Regions from separate parts of the Homo sapiens genome. Here region 1 is linked to region 2. The links come from fine-mapping of genetic effects on gene expression. Tissue or cell type: whole blood. Region 2 holds a variant in brackets; the other region holds the start of a gene. Each region is shown on its reference strand, or each on the opposite one.

Region 1 (4,388 bases), not on the chromosome of region 2:
CAGCCAGCCATTATGCCAATGTACGTCCCTGGACAGGGTGAGGAAGAGTGAGGGGATCAGAACAGCCTACATCCACAAGGGAAAACCGGACCTAAAGGCATCTCCTTACATCAAGGATGTACACACAAACACACACACCACTTCTATTTCTTGACTCGGGCTCTGTCCGCAGAACCAAGTGTGGACCTGGCAGGGGTGAGAGAGGTGAGGCAGGGGAGGAGACACTTGTCACGGTATTAACTGGCTGAATAAAAAGTCTATGATAGTGAAATTTCCAGGAACAGGAGAATCCTTCACACTCTTGCTTGTGATTAGACTGCTTTGTTTGACTTCAGCCTCAGGAGTACCTTTCTGAGCACTGGAAGCTACCGGACACAAGGCAGTCATGGGCCCAGAGCCTGCGACTGGGAGTGGGGAAGAGCAGAGTCAACGATTTCCAAGGGTGCCAAAGCCTTTGGCTGCATTTCATTTCTTTCTGTATGATTCCTGATAGCTGTGTTGGGGTACCGGGCCCTCACAGTAAGTGCTACCACTTTTTCTGTAAATGTTTTGGTTTTATTTATCATTATCATAGCTGCATCTGGGGCAACCACCTTGTGCATACAGGACAATAAATTCCTGAGCCTCCTGGCTTCCCTCCTTCCTCCCTCCTTCTCCCTCTTCTTGGCAAAGGCTTAAACATAGGTGGTGGGGCGGGGGGGGGCGGTAGGGACAGAGACAGAGTTCCAGCTCCTCTTTGCTTCACCCCCTTCCCTCCTCCTCCCTTCTTTCCCATTGCTACACTAAAGGAGTCAGGGCTGTGTCCACCAATATGCTCTGTGACTAGCAGTCAACACAATTTCATACCCAGCCAGTCATTCCGCAGGCATTTTGGATGATAATGTTCCCATTCTCAGTTCCTCTGTGAGAATGTGCATGTCATTTGAAGCTCTGTGCCTCAGTTTCCATAGAAGTAAAACAAAAAGCAAGAATTGAGACTGATCTTTTTCTTGCAAGAATTCACAAGTAATGGATAATGTACAAGAGATGTGGCTGAATAAGAGAACTAGAACAAAGACTTGAACAATTTTCCTATGCAACACTCTTTCCCATGGACAAAGGTATCCCACAAAGTCATACTTCATCGGAGGCTAGTTTGTCCAAAGAAAACTCACATACCAATGCAATAGTGACAAAAAAAAAATTCCTCCATGCCAACTCAGGAAAACAGAAAGCAAGTTGTGCTTAAGCCCATTGTAGGTGTGGGCAGATGCTTCCAAAACCGTCACCCCTTTTCCCTCCTCTATGACTATCTTCAACCCCCAGCAAAGCGGCCTCGCCAGCTGCTAAAGGGTTAATTACCAAAAAGAGGGCATGCTCCCTCCAGAGGCTCCTCTGGAGAGTGCAAAAACAAAACAAAACCAAAAACCAACTAACCACAACAAAAAACATCTTCCCTGGGAATAAATTTGAAGCTTATCAGGTCTTTAAGCCACATTTCCCAGCCCATAGACTCCTGGTCCCTGTCTCCCTTTGCTTTGGGAAACTCATTTACCCCCAAGCCTCCTGAAATGATCCATGTGCCGTGAGATGCCCATAGGGTTGGGGACTTGAAAATGAGTTATTCTCCCACAAAAAATGGCTTAGCTTTGTCTTTTTGGGTGGCTGACAGGAGACATAAAGTATCACTCTCTCTTTTTACCCCTCCTCACAATAGGATGGAATGAGTGTGGAGAAAAACAAAGGTATTGTGGGACCAGGATGGAGTCAACTTGACAATGGACTCTTCAAGGACACCTTCCAGCTCCCATTCTACTAGTAGCTCTATTTGATTTTGTGGGATGTTGTGTTCCTCCAACATATCCGACTTCTGCTTATAAAACAGAAATTAGGAGTAAGAGATTCGCACCGCTAGTTCAGTGGATAATCATCAGTTCTGAAGCATTAAAATCCTTTGCCAACAAGAACGTTTCTTCTAAGGAAGGAAGCATCCTAATCATGAAGCCAGGGTCTCCAGCCCTCCCCTGTCTCCCTCCTCCCCTCCAGGGCTGTGCTCACTCACATCCATGGACATCTCCCTCTGCATAAGTTTCTTGGTCTCCTTTTCACAGAAGTTGAGCATGGCCTCCCGGTTGTACACACCCGTGGACTGTTTCTCCGTCTGGTTTCTCTGCCGCAGCCCCACGGGAACACTCCCGTCTGGGTCCACCACGTCCAGCTCCTTCTCCAGCTCCTCCATCTCCTCGGGAGACAGGGTCTCCAGCAGGCTGTCGATGTCGGGGTCTTCACTCACCTGCCGGCGATATTTGGCTACTCTAGACATCTTGGCAAAATGGGCTGTGGCTGCCAGGGGCTATCAGAGTCCTGGTGGGCAGGGAAGGGAGAGGGGTGAGCTGATCTGGATGCAGCGAGTGGGCTGAGGAGCAAACCTCCTGCTGGTCGAGGACTGCAGCTCCTTGGCCCTTCTGTGCTACAGGTGCTGAAGTGTTCACTGGACGCAGCAGCCTCCCTGAAGCCCAGGGCTAGTGGACCCCGGCTGGTCTAATCAGCGGCCAATAAGACCCGACAACTGCCAGGCCCGGAGAGGAGAAGCCAATCCCCAAGCTGGGGGCGGGCCTACCTCGCTGTCAGAGCTGTTTGAAACTTGAGGACATTCCAGGGAATCTTGGAGCGCTGCGTGACCAAATTTAGTACAGAGCAGTTTAGCCTTTTAAAGACAAGGGGCCACGCAATGAGAAAAAGATACAAAAATGCGTAGGCTGGCAGAAGCAGATCACAGCCACGGAGAGCCAGACAAGCAGGGACGAGGCCATGAGGGCCGGTGAACTCGCCAGCCCGGGGCACGTTCAAGAGCGTATTTTACTACTCCATCACCGGGTGGACGTATCACTGTGGTCAATGTGTGGTTCATGGACTTCCTTCTACAGTATTTGGTAATGTGCTGGGGGGCTCCCAGGTGTATACAGCTCCAGGAAAGTCTAGATTCAAGATGAGGAGCTGTTACTCCTAACCCCCTGCCTACCCATTTTCTTTCTACCCAGGTTCTGCCAAGGAGGACCTGAAGGCTGAGCATCAGAGGCTCCAGGATCCTTTGGCCACTTCTTAAGAGAGAGACAGGAGACAGAAAGACAAACTTAGAGATAGAGATAGCTAGGCAGGAGAGGGAGAGAGAGAGAGAGAGAGAGAGAGAGAGAGAGAGAGAGAGAGAATAAATCCTTACTGTGTACCAAAACTGAAAACTGGCAGGCTGTTTGGGAAAGAGAGAAGGATCTGCAGAAGTCGGGAAACTCTTAAAGGGCTGTCACTTTCCATGAAGTTCCAAGGCTCTTGGGAAGAGGGTTCAAACCTCCCCCTGTTGTCATCTGTTTCTTCCTCTGCCGGGCATCTGTAGACAGACCTCCTTTGGGAGCACAGAGGCAGGTCACCACCCACATATAAATCCAGAGCACGATTTAGTATGTCTTCAGGGAAACAGAATTCTGGGCCGTCGGGAGAGATACGATTGCAACAGGTCTGGCATGTTTCATAGAAGGGCTTTCCACTGCTCATCCATCATGCTGCCCTGCACAAGTCACAGAGACATTCAATCCCCTGCCCCCCTTCCTCCTGCCACAAAATCCCTTCTAGAAGCCCTGGTGTAACCCATCAGGGTAGATGCTTCGATCTTTCCTGGCATCTTTCCATCCTAAGCCAGAGAGAGACAGTCACTTGATCAGCATTTGCTGAGTCCAGGGATCGTCTGGGACTAAAACTTGGCCGTGCCATTTAATGTCCACTAGTCCAACTTTAGGTTAAGGCTGAAGAGGGGAATGGTGTCCACTGGGGGGACTGAAGGGCAGAAGGAAGGCAGGCAGACTTGATAGGAAGAGTGGAAGAAGACTTTAGGGAAACCTGGGGGTTGTCATTTTAAGAGTCAGTAGCCAACTTATTGGTCAAACCGTAGGTATATATTTATTGAGTGATTTATCAAGTGCCTATTATATATCAGGCATTGTTCTAAGAGCAAGAGATATCACTAAAGATACAAAATCAGGCCAGGTGCAGTGGCTCATGTCTGTAATCCCAGCACTTTGGGAGGCCAAGGCAAGAGGATTGCTTGAGTCCAGGAGTTCAAGAACAGGCTGGGCAACATAATGAGACCCCCATCTCTCCAAAAAAAAAAAAAAAACAAAATTAGCCTGATGTGGTGGTGAGCATCTGTTGTCCCAGCTACTCAGGGGGTTGAGGTGGGAGGATTGCTTGAGACCAGAAGGTTGAGGCTGCAGTGAGCTGTGATCACGCTACTGTACTCCAGCCTGGGCAACAGAGTAAGACCCCATCTCAAAAAAGAAAGAAAGAAAGAAAGAAAGAAAGAAAGAAAGAGCGAGCAAGCACAGGGGCTATGGGAAAACACAACAAGAGGAGGCTGA
Region 2 (4,388 bases):
GCTCTGGAAAAGAGAACAAACAAACCAAAGAGAAGGGATCCAGAGGTCACCCTCATATGTGAAAAGTCAATTGATAATGAAGGCTTTAGGATAACCGGAGGGGAGATGATTGAAAGCAATGCACCTGTGCAGGAAATGGATTACGGAAACAGGGAATTGTTCATGAAATCCCAGAAAACCAGAACCGGGAAAGTTCTGGAAGTCGGAAAAACAAATCATGACTTAAGCAATGGAAGTCCAATACACGTTTACAGAATGCCTTGTCCCACGAGGCAACACAGGCTACCACAGATGGGGGACAGGGTGGGAGTGGACCATCCCAGTGGTGTTACTGAGGGGCAAAGGGATAGCCCTATGAGGCAAGTGTCCAGGGCAGAACTGGAGCTTTGTGAAACCATTTCCCAGGCAGAGACAGAGCACTAGGCTGGTGCTGCCAGTCTGACAATAAGTCTGCCATTGTCCTCTGGTCAGCTCTGGACACACAGCAAAAGTGAGTTCAGAGTAGCCTGAAGCAGGAAAGAGGGAAGAGAGGAGGATAACACCTATCTTCCACTTTGCTGCAGGTTCAAGGCAAGGATTTGAGACAGTTACCCCTTCTGGAAGAGCCTGGTGAGTACATCTCTCCTGCCTTGTACAACCCTCTCTCCTCACCGACTTTCTCTCCCAGCAGCCAGCAGGGGCCTGGGCCATTTATGGAATGCAAGCCCTGACCACACAGACTTACTTACATGCCAGGACAGCCACCAGGTAGCCTTTCCCACTCTAGGTTCCACTGTGAGTGCTCTCTCTCTCTCTCTCTCTCACTATGCTCCCAAGAGGAGTCTTACATCAACCCCTTCCTCAAATCTCCCTCACTGGATGTCACAGTCATAGGCCTGAAAAGCAGCATGCAAACTGAATTTTTGTAAAGCAGGACCCATTTCCCCATGGACAGTCATAAGAGATGAGTGAACACAATGTAGCACTTAATTTCTGTCTTCACGATTACTTCACGATAAATCTGGATTCCAAAGGGACTATAAGCTCTCACATGGAAGGAAGCAAGATCTCTACTCCTCCCCCAGTGTTGAGTGGACAGGGAGTACACCGCAGACACCTGTTGGCCAACCAATTCTAATTCCCTTTAGCTAGCATCCCCTAAGCTAGAGCTAGAGCTAGAGCTATTTCCTTGCAGCCTTCCTTTTCTCTAGCAAAGTCCTTCCATGCAGTAGCTAATGACCTGTAAACACTTAATGAGCTAGAGAAACATTCCATTGAAAGGAATACCACTGTGCATCCTTTTGTAAAGAGGGGGGAAAATCTTTTGTAAAACGAAGCATCGCCTTTAACTGCTCTGTTTGATCAAGTCAGATTTTTCAGAATATGAATAGCTAGTATTCAAGCATATATGAACTGTCTTTAAGTTAATCAATCCCTAGAAACTAGCCCTCAGGTTAGCAGGCCAAGGATATATGAGAGTGCTTTGAAGTCTAGACTTAAACTGCCGCTCCTGAATTGAATTAGAACATTCCAGGTAGACAGATTCATGGCCCCTAACATCAGGAATCAGCTAGAAACTCAATCGGCTCTTACCAGTCACTACCTACGTCAGTGCCATATCCTATAATGGTGATGATAATGACCATTATGATGATGATAATAATAATAATAGCTTCCACTGGATGGCACTTTGCACCTTCCAGAGCAATTTAACATCCTTTACTTTTTTTGGAAGGCCTTCAGGTCCAGCCTCCTACTCTTCTCTTTCTCTGAACTATCACCTTACTATAGGCACATATTTCCCCCAAAGGACTCAGTGGCCTCTTTTGTCTCATTTCTCCCTTTGCTGATGATCCAGTAGAGAAATGATCAAAAGGATCCTGCACATTGTCCTAAATGAAACCAAGCTTCCTCTGCAGGATGGAAGTGAGCCAGGTGATAGAAGGGGGAGCCTGGACCCACCGCTTCATTGGCCGAGGATGACCCCATAAAGGTCAGGGTGTTGCAGAGATTGCTATGCACAAAATCCAAGAGGCCCATGGAGGTGGGGAGATGAGGGACCCACCTGGCAGACCCTCAAGAGCAGGGGTCTTCTCTTTGGGGGAGGACATCACTCTTAGCAGGGCTGGGGTGAGTCAAAAGTCTGGGAGAATGGAGGTGTGGAGGGGATAACTGGGTCAGACCCCAAGCAGGAAGGGCCTCTATGTAGACGGGTGTGTGGCTCCTTAAGGTGACCCAGCAGCCCTGGGCACAGAAGTGGTGCGTGGAGATAATGCCAACAGTGATAACCAGCAGGGCCTGTCAGAAGAGGCCCTGGACACTGAAGGCTGGGCACAGCCTTGG[G/C]GACCGCTCACAGGACATGCAGCAGTGTGTGCCGACAACTCCCTACCGCGACCCCTATCAGTGCCGACCAAGCACACAAGATGCACACCCAGGCTGGGCTGGACAGAGGGGTCCCACAAGATCACAGGGTGTGCCCTGAGAAGGTGGGGAGCTCACAGCCTCCAAGCATTGCATCATCCTGGTACCAGGAAGGCAATGGGCTGCCCCATACCCACTTCCCTTCCTAGAATTGGCCTGGGACATTCATTATTTAGCCACCTCTGGCACCTGCATTTGTTTTTCAAATTTTAATAGCAAATAGGCTTAGTGTGCTGGGCAGAGCTGAGCAGAGGTGATCTGACCCCTCTACCTACTCACATAAGATCAGTAAAGAGAAGGAAGCAGGCAGATGAGGTGACAAGGGGAGAAACCAGTGAGGTCATCTATAGGTCCAAGTTCGTACAGACCCAGCCAGACTGCCAGTTCTCTGAGGAGCTAGAGACTTGTGGCTTAAGGAAGCCTCTCTGATGGATGTACTAATATGTATGTACCTTATACATACATTTGAATTACCTGTAAATCTTGATCAAACTCAGATGACTGTCCAACTCATCCAGAAACTACGTTTGTCTAATAGAACAGGAAGCAGGTGGTGGTGGTGGGTGGTGGGGGGGCATTGATGAGAGGCAGGGCCAGTGTTTCTTCTTCATTTTCCATTCCACTGATTCTGTCCCCACACAGGCATCCAAAGGGAAGAATGCTACAGCTACAGTCCATTTCTCGCTGGCTTTTCTGGGAGATCACCCTACAATGTGTTCCCCAGTATTCAGGTTTCTGGGCTGCCATTATCTTCTCTGGTCTCGGGGCCCAAGCCAAAGAGCTGGAGAACAGTATCTGGCCACAGAACCTAAGGCCTGGTAGAGCAAGACAGCCATGTGCAAGGCGAGTGGATAGCGCCCTTCCGTCACTCCCACAGAGCTGCAGGGGTGTGACGCCCCTGCCCAGCCATACCCTTCTGGGCCACAGTGCTGGAGGCTGAAGTCAAAGCCCATCGTGCCTTATTCCTTCAGGAGCAATACTCCTGGGAAAGGTTGCACATTCTGTAACTCCTCTAAGTGATATTTCTTCCCAGGGGCAAAAAAGGAAATTAGCCCCATTTTATAGATAAAGAGCCTGAGGCCCAATAGGCTGATTGACTTGTCCGGGGCCACCTAGCCAGCAGGTGAAAAGACTCATGTGTAGCTGACTTTAGAGTCCAAGCTCCTTCAACGTCCCACTTTCTCAAGACAGTGTTTGCCACGGGCCAGGGCTAGCAAAAAGACCCCTCCAACCCCTCATACCTCCCCACCAACCCCATGCAGGTGTCAGTGAGGCCCAGGAACATGAAGCTCCCCGGACCAAAGGGGTGGACAGCACTGAAGGAAACCGCTCAACCTTGAGTGGAGAGGCTGCTGTGAAACAGCTCTGGGCAGCACCTGGGCCACAGCATGTGGAAGGAGACATGTTCCTAAGCTGCCTGGTACTCTGCCATCTGTCTTCTCTTCCTCCTAATCCATAAGCACCAGACCTCAAGCCCCATGTGCAGCTCCGGAAGCTGCTAGACCTCAAGCAGGACTAAGATTCGGAGAGAGCAGCCACCGACCTGGCTCCTCCCAGGCAGGCCAGCCCAGGTGAGCCCCTCCAGCCAGGCACTCACCCCACTGCCAGGCTGTTTACTCTTAGCTGGTGTTTGTCTCCTGTCTGCTCTACTGTAGCTCCCTCCCTCCTCTCCTCCTTTCGGTCCTCTGCCCAGGCCTGCCTGAGGCTGCCTGCCAGTGAGATTGCATGTCAGGGCTTTGCCCTGGGCACTGAGGGCTAGGGTGCCCAGAGGCCTGCGGCTGTGCCCTGGATGGAAAACCAGCAGCCTGCAAAGCTGTGGGGGCAGCACAGGACCTGTGTGTGAGAGCGGTGGTCTTGAGAGTGAAAGTGGACAAGTCAAGCCCAGGCGGGGAGGGGACAGGGGGCAGGTAGGGATAGGGCAGGTGAGGTTCCCGGGGCCAGTTCCCCCATTATGCACTGCCTCTGCTTCCCCGCCACCATTAACCGTG

What was found. PIP is the estimated chance that this variant, and not a neighbour inherited with it, causes the effect. A credible set is the group of variants that fine-mapping cannot tell apart.
Region 1: LMOD1 starts here. The variant in region 2 is the best candidate, but not a certain one, in a credible set for the expression of LMOD1 in whole blood (TOPMed, PIP 0.89).

The regions. Positions count from the first base shown.
Region 1 is chr1:201,944,039-201,948,426 of GRCh38, forward strand. LMOD1 (leiomodin 1) reads right to left here and starts at 2,510. Exons shown (of 3, transcript NM_012134.3): 1 at 2,042-2,510. The coding sequence starts at 2,302.
Region 2 is chr2:60,495,994-60,500,381 of GRCh38, forward strand. All of the region lies in intron 2 of BCL11A (BCL11 transcription factor A), which reads right to left. Among named protein-coding and RNA genes, the nearest start is that of BCL11A, 55 kb to the right of the region's middle. RefSeq lists enhancers at 968-1,577, 4,001-4,210 and a silencer at 3,291-3,360. The variant G/C (reference allele first, on the strand shown) is at 2,323.